4 separate regions of the Homo sapiens genome follow, and regions 1, 2 and 4 are each linked to region 3. Evidence: fine-mapped expression QTL. A gene starts in region 3. Each other region holds a variant in brackets. All regions are shown on one strand. Distances are between the middles of the regions. Region 1 overlaps IRAK2 (interleukin 1 receptor associated kinase 2). Region 2 overlaps IRAK2 (interleukin 1 receptor associated kinase 2). Region 3 holds the start of IRAK2 (interleukin 1 receptor associated kinase 2). Region 4 overlaps IRAK2 (interleukin 1 receptor associated kinase 2).

Evidence for each region.
Region 1: its variant is fine-mapped to the expression of IRAK2 in lymphoblastoid cells (GEUVADIS, PIP 0.95).
Region 2: its variant is fine-mapped to the expression of IRAK2 in fibroblasts (GTEx, PIP 0.95).
Region 4: its variant is fine-mapped to the expression of IRAK2 in whole blood (TOPMed, PIP above 0.99).

Annotation. Positions count from the first base shown.
Region 1 is chr3:10,188,177-10,193,324 of GRCh38, forward strand. The region is part of intron 2 of IRAK2 (interleukin 1 receptor associated kinase 2); the gene reads left to right. Among named protein-coding and RNA genes, the nearest start is that of IRAK2, 26 kb to the left of the region's middle. RefSeq lists enhancers at 1,427-1,506, 4,006-4,315. The variant C/CA (reference allele first, on the strand shown) is at 3,118.
Region 2 is chr3:10,210,832-10,215,979 of GRCh38, forward strand. IRAK2 (interleukin 1 receptor associated kinase 2) reads left to right here. Exons shown (of 13, transcript NM_001570.4): 5 at 2,376-2,570; 6 at 2,653-2,717. Among named protein-coding and RNA genes, the nearest start is that of TATDN2, 35 kb to the right of the region's middle. The variant C/T (reference allele first, on the strand shown) is at 2,058.
Region 3 is chr3:10,162,481-10,167,628 of GRCh38, forward strand. It overlaps IRAK2 (interleukin 1 receptor associated kinase 2), which reads left to right and starts at 2,439. Exons shown (of 13, transcript NM_001570.4): 1 at 2,439-2,568. The coding sequence starts at 2,475. RefSeq lists silencers at 2,274-2,403, 2,604-2,753.
Region 4 is chr3:10,223,791-10,228,938 of GRCh38, forward strand. It overlaps IRAK2 (interleukin 1 receptor associated kinase 2), which reads left to right. Exons shown (of 13, transcript NM_001570.4): 10 at 2,581-2,643. Among named protein-coding and RNA genes, the nearest start is that of TATDN2, 22 kb to the right of the region's middle. RefSeq lists enhancers at 1,514-2,296, 2,472-2,521 and a silencer at 2,635-2,929. The variant T/C (reference allele first, on the strand shown) is at 2,200.

The sequences.
Region 1 (5,148 bases), 26 kb after region 3:
GCTGAGCCTGTAGATGGTGGGGAGCAGATGGCTCTGGCTCTGAGGGTGGAGTCTGGAAACTGGGTGCACTGGCCTGTGAGGTGAAATTCTCCCTCTGCCCTGCCACAGGGATTTAGATATGCAGGAGCTGGACAAGAGAGTTAATAAGGAACTAAAAATACATTTTTTGTCTTTTTGAGATGGAGTCTCACGCTGTCACCTGGGCTGGAGTGCCATGGCTCGATCTCGGCTCACTGCAACCTCCGCCTCCCGGGTTCAAGCGATCCTTGTGCCTCAACCTCTGAGTAGCTGGGATTACAGGCATGCACTACCACGCCTGGCTAATTTTTGTAATTTTATTTATTTATTTATGTATTTATTTATTTTTGAAATGGAGTTTCGCTCTTGTTGCCCAGGCTGGAGTGCAATAGCGCAATCTCGGCTCACCACAACCTCTGCCTCCCGGGTTCAAGCGATTCTCCTGCCTGAGCCTCCCGAGTAGCTGGGATTACAGGCATGCGCCACCACGCCCGGCTTATTTTGTATTTTTAGTAGAGACAGGGTTTCTCCATGTTGGTCAGGCTGGTCTCAAACTCCCGACCTCAGGTGATCCCCCTGCCTTGGCCTCCCAAAGTGCTGGGATTACGGGTGTGAACCACTGTGCCTGGCCTAATTTTTGTATTTTTAGTAGAGACAGGGTTTTGCCGTGTTGGCCAGGCTGGTCTTGAATCCCTGACCTCAGTGATCCACCCGCCTTGGCCTCCCAAAATATTGGGATTATAGGCATGAGCCACTGCGCCTGGCCTAAAAATACATTTGCTGAGTGCCTACTGTGCGCTAGATGCTGGGGATGCAACCATGAAAACACAGCCAAGGTCTCAGGCCTCATGGAGCTTACAGTCCAGTGGGAGATGAATTATAAGAAGCTAACACACAGATGCATGTCACCCACTGCAGTATGAGTGCTCAAAGGATAAATGTAGGTCAGGTGGGGAGGGCAGGTAGGAGAGTGCAAGATGAGAGGATTTGATCTCATCAGGGGAAGTTTCTCTGAGGCAGTGAAACTTGAGCCTCCTCCGTAAGGAATAGTGGACCAAGAAGTGAAGGACGACACACACATATCTAGCCGGGGGGAGCAGCATGTACAAAGGCCTGGGGGTGGGCTGAGGCTGGGGACAGGGCAGGGTCAGGCCACCCAGTGCCATGCAGGCTACCGCCAAGAGTTTGCTTTCACCGGAGAGTGAAGGGAAGACGTTGGAGGGCTTCCACCTGGGAGTATCCCCTGTTTTGGCCACTATATGGACTGGGGGGCTGGGCCTGTGAGGTTCCAGATGTCAACTGAGTAGGACAGGAAGACACTTCAGGAATCCGAAGGGATTTGGGAAGTGACCAAGGTTTTCTCTTCCCATCTGTTGCTACTATCTACCTGAAGTCTTGAGTTTCACAATTTTCATGCAGTTTCTTCTTGGTTGTGCAACTCTTGACAGTTTCTAACTTTGGGTTTGGCATCTCGGCCAGAGTCATTTCCTTCCTGGAGCTGGGCTCTCATTGAGTGGAAAATTTGGGGCTGCTATGTAAAATGAAACAGAAGAGAATGAACCCTTCCTCTCCGGAAGGGGCCGGGCTGTGCCAGGTCCAGACAGGGCTTGTGTGTCTGCTCTCTTGGAAGGCTGCCCTGCCTCCGCCCCTTTCCAGCTGCTAGGGCACAACAGAACATGCCTACATCCAGACCCTGCCCACTGCAGACTTGCCACTGGAGGCGACACTGTTTTGGGCCAAAACCACAGGCCAGGGGTCAGAGCACCTGGGTTCTAGTAATAGCTTGTGTTTAGCACCTGATATGTGCCAGGTAAGCATCTTTTCTCACAACTCTTATTATCCCTATTTTATAGAAGAGGAAACTGAGGCTCAGAGATTAAGTAATTTCCCAAGGCCACATAGCCCATAGTGATGAGGCCAACATGGGAATTCAGGTCTGCCTGACCTTACCCGCTTCTTGGTAGGTTACTAGATTGCATCATCACTTGCCCCATCTGGAAAATGGGTAAAGACATTGCCCTATCTACTTTTCTTGTAGACTGGGAAGGTTCAAAGCATACGAGATGGTGAGGTTTTCTTTGTTTCTTTTTTTTTTTTTTTTTGTGAGACAGAGTCTCACTCTGTTGTCCAGGCTGAAGTGCAGTGGCATGAGCTTGGCTCACTGCAACCTCTGCCTCGTGGACTCAAGCAATTATCCTGCCTCAGCCTCCCGAGTAGCTGGGACTACTGGCGCCCACCACCACGCCCAGCTAGAGGTTTTCTTAAAGTTAATTGCTGAGTGGCTAAGGACAGGTCACTTGACCTTTTCCTTCCATGCATTCATTATTCCATTGGAAAAAAGCAAGGCTTTAATCACTGTTGGTCTCTTGAGAGTGGTGTTAGAATGAACAGAGTGTGGAATGCCTCTAAGCCAGTCCCCAGTGTTTCAGAGAGGAAGGGTAAGAGCTAGGGTGAAGTGAACCATCCTTTATTGAACTCCTGCTAGATGCTTAGCTCTTACAACTAGTCTCCTCCAGTTGCAAGTTTTGGACACATACTCAGATGATGCATTAGCCAGGATAGGCTTGGTTATGCTGCGGTATCAGATAAACCTTGAAATCTAGTTCCTCAACGCAACAAATATTGATTTCCCACTCACCTGAAGTCCAGTAAGGGTCATGCAGCCTCCTGCATTCTTGTAGCCAGCTAAGTCATCTAGAACATGTGGCTTCCAAAGTCACTGTGGCTGGGGAAGAGAGGGTTGGAAGAGGCTCACTAGCTGTTAAGTGCTTCGTCCAGGAAGTGATAGATAGCATCTTCACTTAAAATCCACTGGCTAGGCCGGGCGCGGTGGCTCAAGCCTGTAATCCCAGCACTTTGGGAGGCCGAGGCCGGCGGATCACAAGGTCAGGAGATCGAGACCATCCTGGCTAACATGGTGATACCCCGTCTCTACTAAAAATAAAAAAAAATTAGCTGGGCGTGGTGGCGGGTGCCTGTAGTCCCAGCTACTCAAGAGGCTGAGGCAGGAGAATTGCTTGAACCCGGGAGGCGGAGCTTGCAGTGAGCCGAGATCGCGCCACTGCACTCCAGCCTGGGCAACAGAGCGAGAATCTGTCT[C/CA]AAAAAAAAAAAAATCCACTGGCTAGAACCAGTCGTGACGCCCAGCCTAATTGCTAAGGAGGCAGGAGTATGAGACAGAGCAGATGGTTATTTGGTAAGTACTCTCTCAGCTACAGGTTACCTCAGTTCCAGGGCGCTTACAGTAAGGTTCTGCCTAACTGTGGCCTACAAGGCCCTGCATGGTCTACCTTTGCCCGGCTCTTCAACCTCACCTCTACCACTTTCCCCCTCAGTCATTCCCCTCAGCCACTACGGTCATCCTTCACTTGCGGGGATATGCCAAGTGTTTGCTGCCTAAGGACCTTTGCACACGTGTTCCCTCTCCTTGGAATGCTGTCTCTCCCCAGCTTCCCTACATTCTTCCATGCTAGTCCTTTTCATCCTCTGGGTGTCTGCATATGTGGCCCCTTCTCATGGCAGCTTTTCCTGGCCAGCCTATGGAAGTAGGTCCATCAGGCACCCCTCCCTCGAGTTTGTTTTCAGCATAGAGCACCTCCCAGTTTATAATTAGATGTCTTTTATTTAACTAGCTTAATGTCAGTATTACGGCAGTTTTGATAAAGGATTCCCCATTCCCTAACACAAAATGAATGAATGAATGAATGAGAAAGAATGAGTCATTTCAGCAGCAGGTGGAGTACAAGTTCAGTGGAGAACCAGGGATCGCACAATTAGGAAGGCAGGCTGTGCTCTCAGGTTTGCCTCATTTCAGGTCTAGCTTGAGTTGGGAGTGTGTGTGTGTGTGTGTGTGTGTGTGTGTGTGTGTGTTGTGTGTTGTGTGTGACTGTGTATGGCCTGGAGGGCCAAACCCAGGGATTAGGAGGGAAAGGAAAAGAGAGGGCGCGGAAAGCTGTGTTTGTCCCTGATAGAGCCAGCTGGCACGAGGGTGCTTTAGTTATAGCTGAATCACTTTTGTTTGTTCTGGAAGGGATCTATTCTGGCCACATGAGTCAGCCTAAGAACAAATTACTGTGTAGTTTGACGGGCGTGAAGGGTTGGGGGGAATTTCCAGAGTGTGCTCACCCAGGAAAGACCTTGTTGCCAGCTCTGAGTCCCCTCTGCTCCAACAGCTCCTGGATTTGCCACCGTGTGAAATGTTCTCAGGCAGCTAGTGTGACGGCCCAGGCCCCGTCAGCCAAAGGCCCAGCACCCATAAACATCCTTTAGTCCTTTCTCCTGAAGGAACTGGGCCATAAACAAGCACATAATAAATAAATCTGCATTCTAGGCTTCGCTTTCTTCAGATATAAGACAACTACCTTATACTTGGTAGCAATTATCCCCCAGAGCTGTTACCTGAATTAAATAGGCCACAGATATGGGCAAGAACTTAGGAAAAAAAGCCTGACCTAGAGTTAGAGTGGTCATTATAATAACAGTAGTAGGAGGCCAAGGCGGACGGATCACCTGAGGTCAGGAGTTCGAGACCAGCCTGGCCAATATGGCAAAACCCCGTCTCTACTAAAAATACAAAAATTAGCCGGGCGTGATGGTGTCTGCCTGTAATCCCAGCTACTCGGGAGGGTGAGGTAGGACAATCGCTTGAACCCAGGAGGCAGAAGTTGTAATGAGCAGAGATCGTGCCACTGTACTCCAGCCTGGGCAACAGAGCGAGACTATAGCAAATGATGGTAGCTTAGATCTGCTGGGTGTTAATTTTTTTATCCTCATGGCTGGTCTCGGGTCGGGGGTCCACTTCCACATCTCATTTGTCGGATGAGGAAGCCAAGGCTTAGGAGGATCCCCCTGCTGGTGAGCCTGACTGCAGGACACACTCCAGACTGCGGGAGTTCATTTGCCTTCCGTGGCATCAGTGATTCATGCTCATTAGGAAGAGCACAGGCATTCCGAAAACAAATCAGAGAGAAAAAGAAATCATGCCTGGCAACCAGCTCTGGTGAACCATGACAGGGGCACAGAGAAGCGCTTCTGCCCCTCCCCCATTTCCTCCTTGTATCTGGGACTCAGCCCTCATCACTGTGGGTTCTCAGCCTCAGCAAGGCAGCTTTCACGGATATCCAGATTCCAGGC
Region 2 (5,148 bases), 48 kb after region 3:
TGAGATCCTGTGTCTACAAAAAAGTTTTTTTTGTTTTTGTGTTTTTTTTGAGGAGTCTCGCTCCATTGCCCAGGCTGGAGTGCAGTGGCACGATCTTGGTCACTGTAACCTCTGCCTCCCAGGTTCAAGCTATTCTCCTGCCTCAGCCTCCTGAGTAGCTGGGATTACATGCACATGCCAGCATGTTTGGCTAATTTTTTTTTGTATTTTTAGTGGAGACAGGGTTTCGCCATGTTGGCCAGGCTGGTCTTGAACTCCTGGCCTCATGTGATCCGCCCACCTCAGCATCCCAAAGTGCTGGGATTACAGGCATGAGCCACCGTGCCTGGCCAAAAAGTTTTTTTGAGACAAAGTCTCCCTCTGTTGCCCAGGCTGTCTCGACTCACTGAAACCTCTGGTTCCCCAGTTTAAGCGATTCTCCTGCCTCAGCCTCCTGAGTATCCGGGATTATAGGTGTGTGCCACCACGCCTGGCTAATTTTTGTATTTTTAGTAGAGACACGGTTTCACCATATTGCCCAGGCTGGTCTTGAACTCCTGGCCTCAGAGGATCCGCCTGCCTTGGCCTCCCACATATGGTGAGATTACAAGCAGTGAATCACTGTGCCTGGCCTCGCCAAAAAAAAAAGTTTAAAAAATAAGCCAGGCGTGGTGGCACACACCTGTAGTCCCAGCTACTTGGGGGCGCTGAGATGAAAGGATCCCTTGAGCCTGGGAGGTTGAGGCTGCGGTGAGCTGACATCATGCCATTGCACTCCAGCCTTGGTGTCAAAGTGAGACCCTGTCTCAAAAAGAAATCAAAACTATGTGTGTGGCATGATACCAGTTTTGTTAAATAAATCCTAGTATATCTAATTGGCCGGAAATACACTAACTTTAATAGCAGTTAAATGGATAATGGGGTTATGGATACTAATTTTCAAAAACTGTTAAGAGCATATGTAACTTAAAAAAATTGAAATTTAGGCCGGGCGCGGTGGCTCGTGCCTGTAATCCCAGCACTTTGGGAGGCCAAGTCGGGCGGATCACGAGGTCAGGAGATGGAGACCATCCTGGCTAACACGGTGAGGCCTCATCTCTACTAAAAAAATTACAAAAAATTAGCCGGACAGGGTGGTGGGTGCCTGTAGTCCCAGCTGCTCGGGAGACTGAGGAAGGAGAATGGCGTGAACCTGGGAGGCGGAGCTTGCAGTGAGCCGAGATCACACCACTGCACTCCAGCCTGGGTGACAGTACGAGACTCTGTCTCAAAAAAAAAAAAAAAATTACGTACATGTGTTTTAAAGAGAGAAGTTATTAAAAACGGAAACAGAACTTCTTTTTATAGGCTTATATACACATGCAGTCTCTGGAATTCTGTTTAAAGCAAGCTTGTCTTACTTGCCCATGGTTGTGTGCAGCCCAGGATGGCTTTGAATGTGGCCCAACACAAATTTGTAAAGTTTCTTAAAACATTATGAGTTTTTTTTGCAATTTTTTTTTTAAAGCTCATCAGCTATCATTAGTATTAGTGTATTTTATGTGTGGCCCAAGACAATTCTTCTTCCAGTGTGGTCCAGGGAAGTCAAAAATTGGACACCCCTGGTTTGGTTATATGAACCTGTATCCTACTTCCCAGGAGTCTGGAACCCCAGTATCTATGCTGTGAATTAGACCAAGAGTGCTGAGCTCGGCCACTGACCAGCTGTGGGACCTCACTTCAGCTGTTTTATTTCCTCAGTGCTTACTTCTGTAAACTGAAATAAAGGAAACATCAACCATGTGCCAGGAATACTCACATCTTAGTCTTCAAAATTACTCTTCGGGGTACTATTGTTACCTTCATTTTTGCTGATGGAAAAAATTGAGGCTCAGAGAGGTTAAGTAACTCACCCAAGGTCACAGAGCAAGATACAGATGGAGCTGGGATTTGAGCTTGGGCCTATCCATGTCCTTTTTTTTTTTTTTTTTTTGAGACAGAGTCTCGCTCTGTCACCCAGGCTGGAGTGCAGTGGCGCGATCTCGGCTCACTGCAAGCTCCGCCTCCTGGGTTCACCCCATTCTCCTGCCTCAGCCTCC[C/T]GAGTAGCTGGGACTACAGGCGCCCGCCACCACGCCTGGATAATTTTTTTTTGTATTTTTTAGTAGAGACGGGGTTTCACTGTGTTAGCCAGGATGGTCTTGATCTCCTGACCTCGTGATCCGCCCGCCTCGGCCTCCCAAAGTGCTGGGATTACAGGCGTGAGCCACCGTGCCCGGCCTATCCATGTCCTTTTTACAGTTTCCATTGGATAAGTTGATCCCCTCCATCCCTCCATCTCTGGTGTTCCAAGGTCCCTTGAGGTAGCAGAGAAAACGAGATTCCATAGTAATCTCCATCTCTTCTCTCTGGGTCTCCAGGACTTCAGCACCTCCATTCCTAAGCAGGAAAAACTTTTGAGCTTGGCTGGAGACAGCCTTTTCTGGAGTGAGGCAGACGTGGTCCAGGCAACCGATGACTTCAATCAAAACCGCAAAATCAGCCAGGGGACCTTTGCTGACGTCTACAGAGGGCACAGGCACGGGAAGCCATTCGTCTTCAAGAAGCTCAGAGAGGTGAGCACTTCTTGGTTTCTAGTGGGGGTGGAGGCTGCAGGGGTGGGGCGGGATCTTCATGTTCTGATGTCTTTCTCTACAGACAGCCTGTTCAAGTCCAGGATCAATCGAAAGATTCTTCCAGGCAGAGTTGCAGATTTGTCTTAGGTAAGCCTCCCCTTTGTTTAGTAATAATGATAGCTAACCTTTATATAGTGCTTCCTGTGTGCCCAGTCATGTTTTAAGCACTCTATTATATATAAACTCATTTAGTCCTTACAAGAACCCTATAAATGTAGCTACTATTATCACATTATTTTACAGATGGGTAAATTGAGGCACAGAGGGGTTAAATGTCTCATCCAAGGTCACACAGCTAATGAGTGGCAGAGCCAGGATTTGGATCTACCTGGTTTGGCTCCAGAGTCCATTCTTCTCCTGTGTAGCAATTCTATGTGTAGATTAGAATTATAAAGGAAACTTGGCTTACTCCAACTCCTTCCTTCCACATGGGAATAAATCTTCTCTCCTTTTTTTTTTTCTTTTCTTTTCTTTTTTTGTTTTTTGAGACAGAGTCTTGCTCTGTCTCCCAGGCTGGAGTGCAGTGGCGTGATCTCGGCTCACTGCAATCTCTGCCTACCAGGTTCAGGTGATTCTCGTGCCTTAGCCTCCCGAGTAGCTGGGATTACAGGCGTGCGCCACCAGGCCCGGCTAATTTTCATATTTTTAGTAGAGACGGGGTTTTGACATGTTGGCCAGGATGGTCTCAAATTCCTGACCTCAAGTGATCTTTCTGCTTTGGCTTCCTAAAGTGCTGGGATTACAGGCGTGAGCCACCGTGCCTGACTTTTTTTTCTTTTTTAAGAGCTAGGGTCTTGCTCTATTGCCCAGGCTGGAATGGCCTTGGAATGATTGTAGATCACTGCAGCTTTGAACTCATGGGCTGGTGATCCTCCCACCTCAGCCTCTGAGAAGCTGGGACTACAGGTGTGCGCCCAGCTCATTTTTTGCTTTTTTTTTTTTTTTTTTTTGTAGAGATAGGGTCTTGCTATGTTGACCAGGCTGGTGTTGAGCTCCCGGGCTCAAGTGATCCTCCTGCCTTGACCTCCCAAGATGTTGGGATTATAGGTGTGAGCCACTGTGCCCTGCCATGTGTGTGCTTTTTTTTTTTTTAATTATTTTTCATCTGAAACACTTGTGCCTTATATTGTAGGGTATTTTAAGAAATAAAGAAAATTGAGTATCTGTTCATTCTGTAACCAGTGTTAAAAAATAAAGAAAATTGACCAGGTATGGTGGTTTATGCCTGTAATCCTAGAACTTTGATGCTGAGGCAAGAGGATTCCTTGAGCCAAGGAGTTTGAGACCAGCTTGGGCAACATAGCGAGACCCTGTCTCAACTGAAAAAAATATATATACAAAAACTTTTTTTGGCTGGGCATGGTGGCTCGCACCTATAATCCCAGCACTTTGGGAGGCTGAGGCGAGTGGATCACTTAAGTCCAGGAGTTCAAGATCAGCTGGGCAACATGGCAAAACCCCGTCTCTACAAAAAATACAAAAATTAGCTGGGTGTGGTGGTGTATGCCTGCAGTCCCAGCTACTCAGGAGGCTGATGGGAGGATCACTTGAGCCCAGGAGGCAGAAGTTGCAGTGAGCCGAGATCATGACACTACACTCCAGCCGGGGCAACAAAGTGAGTCTCTGTCTCAAAAATAAATAAAGGCCAGGCATGGTGGCTCACACCTGTAATGCCAGCACTTTGGGAGGCCGAGGTGGGCAGATCAGTTGAGGTCAGGAGTTTGAGACCAGCCTGGCCAACATGGCGAAACCTCATCTCTACTAAAAAAAATTCATACAAAAATCAGCCTGGTGTGTTGGCATGCACCTGTAGTCCCAGCTACTCAGGAGGCTGAGGCATGAGAATCACTTGAGCCCAGAAAGTGGAGGTTGCAGTGAGCCCAGATCGCACCACTGCACTCCAGCCTGGGCAATAGAGTGAGACTCTGTCTCAAAAAAAAAAAAAAAAAAAAATTAATTAATTAATTAAAAAGTAAAACAAATTTAAAAAGGAATAAAGAAAATTATAAATAAGAAAATAGAAACTTTTTCACAGCACCTATAAATAAGCACTACTGTTTTAATATTTTGATATATTTTCATTTTTAATTGTTAAAACTTTTTTTGTAGAGACACGATCTCACTATGTTGCCCAGGTTGGTTTTGAACTCCCTGGCTCAAGTGATCCTCCTGCTTTGGCCTCCAAAAGTGTTGGGATTTTAGATGTGAGCCACTGTGCTGGGCCCATATTTTGATATGTTTTCTTTAATGCTTTCTCTATTCATACATGTATATGAATACTCACATGTGTACACACACACACACACACACACAGATACACACACACACATACATCTAATAAAAACTGGAAGTATGATTCCCTTTCCACTTTGGCTTAGTGCTTTCATGGAGTCGGCAGTCACTCCTTCATTCATTGATTCAGAAAATGTGGGTAGTTAAGCCCTTTTCTAGGCTCTAGGGAGTGTACGCCAGAAGCATACAGAGCCCCTGCCTTGGGGAGGTTTATGGTCCAGTGGGG
Region 3 (5,148 bases):
CTTATCTGCCCTTCGTGACCTCGCCTAACCTCTTGGAATCTATTTACTTCTGTGTAAAATGGGGATAATAATATCTATAGTATAGGCTTGTAAGAATGACATAAGATCATTTTTGCAAAGTACATTGTAGATACAGATAAATGTATCTGTATCTACAATATACTTTAGCCAGTGGTGATGGAGAGCCTGGGGTCAGAATACTTAGGTTCAAATGATTTTAGCCATATTATTTAACCTCTCTGTGCCTTAGTTTCCTTATTTGTAGAATGGGGCTATAACCATACCTACCTCAGAGGGTCATTGTAAGGAGTAAGTAAAGTAACCCAGGTGAAGGCTACACATAGTAAGTGCTCAATAAATACTAGCTATTTTATATATGTGTGTGTGTATTTTATATATATATATATATATATATATATATATATATATGTATACACACACTATAAATTCTGTTCCTTGTACCCTCTTTGTTTATTTAGAGACAGGGTCTCACTCTCACCCAGGCTGGAGTGCAGTGGTGCAATCTTGGCTCACTGCAATCTCCACCTCCTGGGCTCAAGTGATCCCCCTACCTTAGCCTCCCAAGTACCTGGGACTACAGGCACATGCCACCATGCCTGGCTAATTTTTGTAGAGACAGGGTCTTGCTCTGTTTCCCAGGCTGGTCTCGAATTCCTGGGCTCAAGCGATCTGCCTGCCTCTGCCTCCCAAAGTGCTGGGGTTATAGGTGGGAGCCGCCGCACCCAGCCCCTTATACCCTATTTAATAATCCAGTTTGTCCTGCAGTCCCCTGCACCATACTCTGCTTTTTTCCCAGTAATAGTATCATCTAAGATAATGCAATTGGCCACTTGCACTCCCTTTTACCACCCTCTACTTTTATTCTTTCTTTTCTTTCTTTTTTTTTTTTTTTTTTTCAGAGACAGGGTCTCATTCTGTCACTCAGGCTGCAGTGCAGTCATAGCTCACTGCAGCCTCAAACTCCTGGGTTCAAGAGATCCTACCACCTTAGCCTCCTGAGTAGCTGGGACTATAGGTGTACACTACCATGCTTGGCTCATTTTAAAATTTTTTGTAGAGGCCAGGCGTGGTGGCTCATGCCTGTAATCCTAGCACTTTGGGAGGCCGAGGCAGGCGGATCACGAGGTCAGGAGTTCAAGACCATCCTGGCCAACACAGTGAAACCCTGTCTCTACTAAAAATACAAAAATTAGCTGGGCGTGGTGGCGCGTGCCTGTAATCCCAGCTACTCGGGAGACTGAGGCAGGAGAATTGCTTGAACCGGGACCTGGGAGGCAGAGGCTGCAGTGAGCCAAGATTGCGCCACTGCACTCCAGCCTGGGCTACAGAGCAAGACTCCGTCTCAAAAAAAAAAAGTTTTTTGTAGAGATAAGATCTTCCTATGTTGCCCAGGCTTCTACTTTCATTCTCCAACATAGCTTATCTGCCTATTTTTATTGCTTGTTGTCTGTCTCCCTCCAGGACAAGGATTTTGTCCTTCTCTTCAGAGGTATTCCCAGCACCTACAACAGTGCCTGGCACATAGTAGCTGCACGATACATATTAGCTACTATAGTAAAGTCTACCTGACTACCCTATTTAATAGAATATTCCCCATGCTCAATCTGAATTCCTGATTCCCTTTAACCAACTTTTTTTCCTTTTTTTTTTTTTTTGCAATAGTGCTTATTACCTTTAAGACACTCTGTAACATACTATATTTATTATTTATTGTTAGTCTTTCTCTCCACACCTAGATTGTAAGTCTTATGAAAGCAAGGGCTTTTGTAGGCTTTTTTTTTTTTTTTTTTTTTTTTTTGAGACAGAGCCTCACTCTTCACCCAGGCTGGAGTACAAGGGCACAATCTGGGCTTACTGCAACCTCCGCCTCCAGGGTTCAAGCGATTCTTCTGCCTCAGCCTCCCAGGTAGCTGGGACTACAGGCGTGCGCCACCGTGCCCGGCTAATTTTTGTATTTTTAGTAGTGACGGGGTTTCACCATATTGGCCAGGCTAGTCTCGAACTCCTGACCTCGTGATCCGTCCGCCTCGGCCTCCCAAAGTACTGGGATTACAGGAGTGATCCACCGCGCCCGGCTGTAGGGTTTCTTATTCAGGTATTACCAACACCTAGGGAGTTGCCTGGCATACAGTAGGTAATTAATGGAGTATTTGATGAGCGCATGATGCATGGTGTAGTGCCGATGGAAGTGGGGTCAGAAGGCCTCCTGCCGCTGCGGCAGAATTCCCGTGTGGCCTTCTCCCACCAGGGCCTCAGTTTCCCCTCGCAGTTCCGATTCTCTGGCCGGCGCTGGGGTGGAGCCGGCGGGGCCGTCGTGCCGCCCGTGGCCGCTGGGGACGCTGGTGCCCTCCCGCCCCGCCCACTTCCCCGCCGGTCCGCCCCTGGCTAGAGAAGCCGCAGCCCGCAGTGTCCGACCCAGTCGTCCCGCGCCGGAGCCGGCCCCGTAGCGTGCCATGGCCTGCTACATCTACCAGCTGCCCTCCTGGGTGCTGGACGACCTGTGCCGCAACATGGACGCGCTCAGCGAGTGGGACTGGATGGAGTTCGGTGAGTGCGGCCCGGGGAGGGGAGGGGACCAGGGCGACCGGAGCCCCCAGCGATCCCGCCTGGAGCGGCCGCCAAGCTCCCTCGGGCACCCGGGTTCAGCGGGTCCCGATCCGAGGGCGTGCGAGCTGAGCCTCCTGGACCGGGTCCGCCGCGGACCTCGGCCTGTCACCTGAAGGTGCCGCGTGGTCTCTGAGGACGTCTGTCGACGAGCAGGGGCCGCCGCCACTGCGCTCTGAGTCCAGAGAACGGTGGGTACGGGGGCCCTCCTGTCAGCGCTGCTGGCTCGGTGACGTCCCCAGGTGGCCTCTCATCCAGCCCACAACAGCCTGCAAAGTGCGAGCCTCGACCCTGTAGGGACCCACGGTGCTGTCACTTCTTGGGGGGGTGTGTGTGTGTGTGTGTGTGGTGTGTTTAGTTTTAGTGTATATTAGAAGGATCTATGATTTAACATATATATATATATTGAAACGGAGTTTCGCTGTTGTTGCCCAGGCTGGAGTGCAATGGCACGGTCTCGGCTCACTGCAACCTCCACCTCTGGGATTCAAGCGATTTTCCTGCCTCGGCCTCCCGAGTAGCTGGGATTACAGGCGCCCGCTACCACCCTGGCTAATTTTTTGTATTTTCAGTAGAGACCGGGTTTCACCATGTTGGCCAGACTGGTCTTGAACTATTTTTTTTTTTTTTTTTTTTTTTTTTTAAGACGGAGTCTCACTCTGTCGCCCAGGCTGGAGTGCAGTGGCGCGATCTAGGCTCGTTGCAAGCTCCGCCTCCCGGGTTCACGCCATTCTCCTGCCTCAGCCTTCTGAGTAGCTGGGACTACAGGCGCCCGCCACCACGCCCGGCTAACTTTGTATTCTTAGTAGAGACGGGGTTTCACCGTGTTAGCCAGGATGGTCTGGATCTCCTGACCTTGTGATCCGCCCACCCTGGGCCTCCCAAAGTGCTGGGATTACAGGCATGAGCCACCGCGCCCGGCCTCCGGAACTCTTGATCTCAGGCGATCCACCTGCTTCGGCCTCCCAAAGTGCTGGGATTACAGGCGTGAGCCACTGTGCCCAGCCTATTTATCATATTTGTGATTAAATGTACTTTACCATTATAGTTTTAAAATCAGATATTTACTTTTAGTGTACATTGTTTTGATCACAGTATTTATGACTATCAACCTGTTTTGAGATCAGATGTGTCCTAATAGATTCAGTGTGTATAATGGGGCCTAAGCACAAGCACTTACTTTCACTCTATTGCAAGGTGCACAGTTCTAGATAATTCCGTGGGAAGGCACTCAGACAGCCTCCATATGTTTTGTTTGTTGGTGCCTGACGGATGACTGGCGGAGAGGGCCATGGACTCTGCGGGGAGGCCGCTTGCCTGTTGTCTCTGCTTTCCAGGTGGAGATCTGCATTCCAGGCTCTTGCTGTATGACTTTGGGCCAGTTTGTTAACCTCTCTGAGCCTCAGCTTCTGAATCTGTATGTAAACTGGAGATGATAATTATAGCTTCTTCATAAAGTTGTGAGGAATGAAAATACTGTATAAAAGCACTGACACCTAAGTGTTAAATATTCTTATAAGTCATAAGTTGTAATATTCTCTTTTCATTTTTATTTTTTTGAGACAGTCTCATTCTGTGGCCCAGGCTGGAATGCAGTGGCGAGATCTCGGCTCACTGCAGCTTCCGCCTCTTGGATTCAAGTGATTCTCTTGCCTCAGCCTCCCGAGTAGCTGGGATTACAGGCATGTGCCACCACGCCCACTAATTTTTATGTTTTTAGTAGAGATGGGGTTTCGCCATGTTGGCCAGGCTGGTCTCGAACTCCTGACCTCATGTGATTTGGCCGCTTTGGCCTCCCAAAGTGCTGGGATTACAGGCGTGAGCCACTGCTCCTGGACCTGGCTTCACTACTTTGAATGTTTCCTGGGCAGTGAACAAACTTTGTGTGAGACTCCCTCTCATTTTTTCCACATTGGCCCAGCCCTCAGTTACAAATGCCAGAACAACTTCTGTTTCTAGGAAATTCAATTAGAAGGCATACCTATGACTTAAAAAAAAAATAAAGCTTTACTGAGATATTCACATACCATACAATCCACCTGTTTCAGGAGTACAATTTAGTGGTATTTAGTATATTCACAGGGCTGTGTATCCATCTTCACAATCAATCTTAGAACATTTTAATCACCCGAAGAAGAAACTCTGTACCCGTTAACTTCCAATCCCCTCCTTCCATTTTCCTGAGTTTTAGACATTGCCTATTTTGGACATTTCATATAAATGGAATCATATAATATATAGTGCTCTGTGACTGACTTGTTTCAACTAACATGAGGTTCATCCATGTTGTAGCATGCGTCAATACTTAGTTTCTTTTTTTTTTTTTTGAGACGGAGTCTCGCTTTGTCACCCAGGCTGGAGTGCAGTGGCGCAATCTCGGCTCACTGCAAGCTCCACCTCCTGGGTTCATGCCATTCTCCTGCTTCAGCCTCCCTAGCAGCTTGGACTACAGGTGCCTGCCACCATGCCCGGCTAATTTTTTTGTATTTTTAGTAGAGATGGGGTTTCACTGTGTTAGCCAGG
Region 4 (5,148 bases), 61 kb after region 3:
ACAGCTGCCCCTTGGGCCTCACCCTCTTTTCTTCTCTAGCCTTGAACTCTGTACTTCCTCTCTCTGACCACAGTCTCCTGTCTGTCTACCTCTGCTACCAGAACCGTGGCCCTGAGTCACCTCTGCCCTCAGCCAGAACCCCAGATTCTGCACCTCCGTGTCTCCCAGCTGGTTCCTCTGCCTCCCTCAGCCCCACTGCAAGTTGTTCAGTGAAGCTCAGCAGGGCTAGTCCAGGCTCCTTCTCCTTTAAGAACCAGGGGGATGGGCAGGGAGTGGTGGCACATGCCTAAAATCTCAGTACTTTGGGAGGCCGATGTGGGCAGATCACCTGAGGTCAGGAGTTCAAGACCAACCTGGCCAACATGGTGAAACCCCGGCTCTACTAAAAATACAAAAATTAGCTGAGTGTGGTGGCATGTGCCTGTAATCGCAGCTACCTGGGAGGCTGAGTCAGGAGAATCACTTGAACCTGGGAGGCAGAGGTTGCAGTAAGCCGAGATCGCGCCATTGCACTCCAGCCTGGGCAACAGAGCAAGATTCTGTCTCAAAAAAAAAAAAAAAGAAAAAAAAGAACCAGGGGGATAGAACCCCTAGGCCCGGCTCAGTTACTTTCAGCTGTGTGACTTACACCTAGCACTTCTGTCTCTGGGCCTCAGTTAAGCCTTCTGTAAGATGGGGCTAACGATACACATGGAGATGAATGGGATAATGTATATAAGCAGGTGAGCATGGCACCCTGCACCCTGCACCTACCAAGAATATTATGATGACTGTGGTTATTGTTATTCCCACCTTTACACCCTCCTTCTGATATCTGTTTACTCTTGACCTTCTAACTGGTGTGTTAGCGTCACAGATGACTTCCTCATCCATCCATTCACCCTCCCACCTATCCATCTATTCATCCACCCATGCACCCACCCTCCCACCCACATACCCATCCATCCATCCATCCATCCATCCATCCATCCATCCATCCATCCATCCATCTACCACCCATCCATCCATTCATTCATTGAATGCCTCCTGGCTCCTGCCACCCTTTTGCTCAGCCCTGCCTCTGGTTGACTGATAACGCTTTTGAACTTTGATTCCTCCTGTGGGGATCACAGTGCATTGCTCAGTGTTTTTTGGTGAGTGCTCAGTGACCTCTATAAAGGACTTGGCTCAGAGCCTGCTCTGTGAAAGGGGCACAGGAAGTCTTTGTTTATTCATTTCCCCTTGTTCTGTCCCTTCCTGGCAGGGACCTGTCAGGAGTCCCTTTTCAATTGGCTCCTGTCCCACTTGCAGCAGTGATGCCCTCTGCTGCCCTTTTCTGGTCACTGCCAGTCTGTTATTAATCCTGGGTGGTTTAAAACCTTTATCCTTTCCTTCCTCCAGGCTTGGAGGGATTCTTGGCTATAAATGTGACCCTATTCTGACTTGCTTTGAGAGATGCTGTGGGAGAGAGGTTCCACACTAAGTGTGGGGTCTTCACACCTTTAATATTCACAACTGCTAGTCCCCATTTAACAGATGAGGACACTGAGGCTCAGGTTTTAGTTACTTGCCTAAAGATCACCTGAGCATATAAGGAACAGAGTCAGAATTTGAACTCAGGCCTGACTGTAGAGCCCTTAGCCATCATAGCATTGTCTCTACTGAGAAACCCTGTTCAAAGCAGTTTCCTGTTTATGAAGACATATATCATGGTTTGCCAATTTTGTGGTGACTTACACGTATACAGGGTTGTGCTCCTTCTGCGAGTGGATGCGCTAATGAATAAATAATGTTAGTAAAGGCCTGTGAGTGAAACATGCTATGGATGCTGCAAGATTTGTCTAGAATAGATACCTGCCTGCATGCAGAGTCTTTCCTTCCCTGAGATTCACAGAGCAATGCCTGCTTGCCATAGCTGAAGGTTTTTTGGTGTTTTTTTTTTTTTTTGAGACGGAGTCTTGCTCTGTCGCCCAGGCTGGAGTGCAGTGGTGCGATCTCAGTTCACTGCAAGATCCACCTCCCAGGTTCACGCCATTCTCCTGCCTCAGCCTCCCAAGCACCTGGGACTACAGGCACCCGCCACCGCGCCTGGCTCATTTTTTTGTATCTTTAGTAGAGACGGGGTTTCGCTGTGTTAGCCAGGATGGTCTCGATCTCCTGACCACGTGATCCGCCCACCTCAGCCTCCCAAAGTGCTGGGATTACAGGCATGATCCACCG[T/C]GCCCAGCCAGCTGAAGGATTTTTAAATGAAACAATCTTTAAAAAATAGTGTATATATACGTGTGTGTGTATCTATATTTATCTATACCTATATATATCTTATGGTAATACATATAAACACACACACACATGAATTTTTGAAAACCATCTTCTCTGCCTGGCTATCAATTAATTACAACCTTCCACTGGCAGCTTGGTGGCATCTTTAATTGGAGGAGGTGTTTAGTGATATTCCCATGTTCCAGATTTTGGGCAGGTGTGTCTGCTGGCAATGGCAGAGCTGCACCTGGAGCTCAGAACTGAGAAGAGAAGACAGAATCTGCTGCCTGGCTGTGTGCACGAGCGTCTGAACCATGCTAACTCACGTTCTGTTCTCTCCAGGTGTTGGCCGAGGTCCTCACGGGCATCCCTGCAATGGATAACAACCGAAGCCCGGTTTACCTGGTAAGGGAACTTGTCACATCTGGCTGGGAGGTATATTTGGGCCTCACAGCTCTGTAGAGAGGGCAACGACCTCAATTCTAGCTAGTTTTACACATGCAAATGAGGCCCGGTACAAGGTTGCATTTGCATCCCCACAAAGCAGCTTTAACCTCCCATCCCCACCTGCCAGCCAACCATTGCTTTTTCATGATAATAGCATCTGGGGCTTGGTGCGGTGGCTCATGCCTGTGATCACAGCCTTTGGGAGACTGATGTGGGTGGATCATTTGAGACCAGGAGTTCAAGACCAGCCTGGCCAACATGGTGAAACCCTGTCTCTATTAAAAAAAAAGAAAAGAAAAAACTTACAAAAAACCCCCAACATTATCCAGGTGTGGTCGCATGTGCCTGTAATCCCAGCTACTCGGGAGGCTGAGGCAGGAGAATCACTTGAACCTGGGAGGCAGAGGTTGCAGTGAACCAAGATTATGCCACTGCACTCCAGCCTGGGTGACAGAGCGAGACTCCATCTCAAAAAAAAAAAAAAAAAAAAGATTTTGGAATGTTTATAGAAAGCACTTGTATAAAAGAGAAAGCACTTCTCTATATATCAGGCAATTCATTAGGGATTTTCCTCAAATTGATAAAAGTTAATTTCAGCCCTTTTAAACAAGTTTCTATAATAAAAACAATTTCCATTTTGTAGGCCAAAGATCTGATATACACAGTCATTTAAAAAATATAACAACCTGGCTGGGTGTGGTGGCTCACACCTCTAATCCCAGCACTTTGGAGGAGGCCAAGGCGGGCGGATCACTTGAGGCTGGGAGTTCGAGACCAGCCTGGGCAACATGGCGAAACCCTGTCTCTACTAAAAATACAAAAATTAGCCAAGCGTAGTGGCACACACCTGTAATCCCAGCTACTTGGGAGGCTGAGGCAGGAGAATCGCTTGAACCCAGGAGACAGAGGTTGCGGTGAGCCAAGATTGCACCACTGCACTCCAGCCTGGGTGACAGAGTGAGACCCTCTCTCAAAAAAGAATAAAAATATAACAACCTAGCCTGACTTTGTGTTAAATACTTTCCATACATTATCTACCTAAATCATCTCAATTTTTCCATGATAGAGTCATTATATTCATCTGCAGATGAGGAAAGCTGGCTCTGAGTTTGGCCTAGGATCTCAGTTGGAATTACCAAGTGTCAGAGCTGGAATTCTGAGTCAGATCTCCCTGAGCCGACATCATGAGTTTTTTTTTTGTTTTTGTTTTTGAGACGGAGTCTTGCTCTGTCGCCCAGGCTGCAGTGCAGTGGTGCAATCTCGGCTCACTACAAGCTCCACCTCCCGGGTTCATGCCATTCTTCTGCCTCAGCCTCCCGAGCAGCTGGGACTACAGGCGCCCACCACCACACCTGGCTAATTTTTTTGTATTTTTAGTAGAGATGGGGTTTCACTGTGTTAGCCAGGATGGTCTCAATCTCCTGACCTCGTGATCCGCCCGCCTCGGCCTCCCAAAGTGCTGGGATTACAGGATCTTGAGTTCTTAACCACAGCAGTCTCCTGCTTGTTTCTTGTGACAGTCCAACCATACGAATTCAGTATTATCATTCCCATTTACAGCTGAGAAAACTGAGGGCAAGCTGAAGTGACTTGTCTCACGCCCCTCAGTGAGACCAGTGGTGGAAGTGGGGTTTAAATTGAACCCAAGGCTTTTGCAGAGTTTCAAATCTCATCCAAACTCTAGTCTTCCTCATCAGTTTGAGAGGGGGCACCTTTTCCTACTGGGTATTGAGGCCATTGGAACAGACAGATTATTATTTTATTTATTTATTTATTTCTGGTGACTGGGCCCCAGAAGCATCCCCTGGGCTCTGGGGTAGGGAGGCTGAAGGCCTCGCTACTCCATGCAGAAAGTCACGACATGTTCCTTTGATGAACTCTGTGAGTTCCACCCCTTTTGGGCAGTCAATCCCATATGCTGCAGAGAGGTCTGTCTGGGCAGCTCAGATGTGGTTTGGGGCTGTTTGGGGGCAGTTTCTCATCTCCTGACTATTTTCTTGAGATGGATTTCCCAGCAGTCCTCTGGGGCTCCCCGGACAAGTGTCACAGTGGAAGGAGGCTTTTGAGGCACTGACAGGAAGTTGTCTAGAATTATTTTTTTGCTAATGATTTCTAAAAATGTGGAAAATAACAATTTTTTAAAATGTAGTTTCTTTCTCTTATTCTAGACTCTTGTATGGTCTCTTATCATGTTCTGTTGTGGTAGGTGCAATCCAATGGTTAATCAAGATTTGAGTCAGGGAGGAAAGCTTGCTGATTTCCTGTGGCCCAGGGTAGGAGGAAGCAGGCCTCCTCCAGGCTTGGGAAAGTGTTAGTTGCCACAGTGTTTCCTGAGGGCATTTGGTGGTTTCCACCTAAATTGAAAATATGAGTACCCTCTGACACGGCAGTTCCATTTGTGCCTAGAGAAACATGCACACATGTGAGGAGAGGCAGATGAACAAGGATATTTGTAGTGGCATT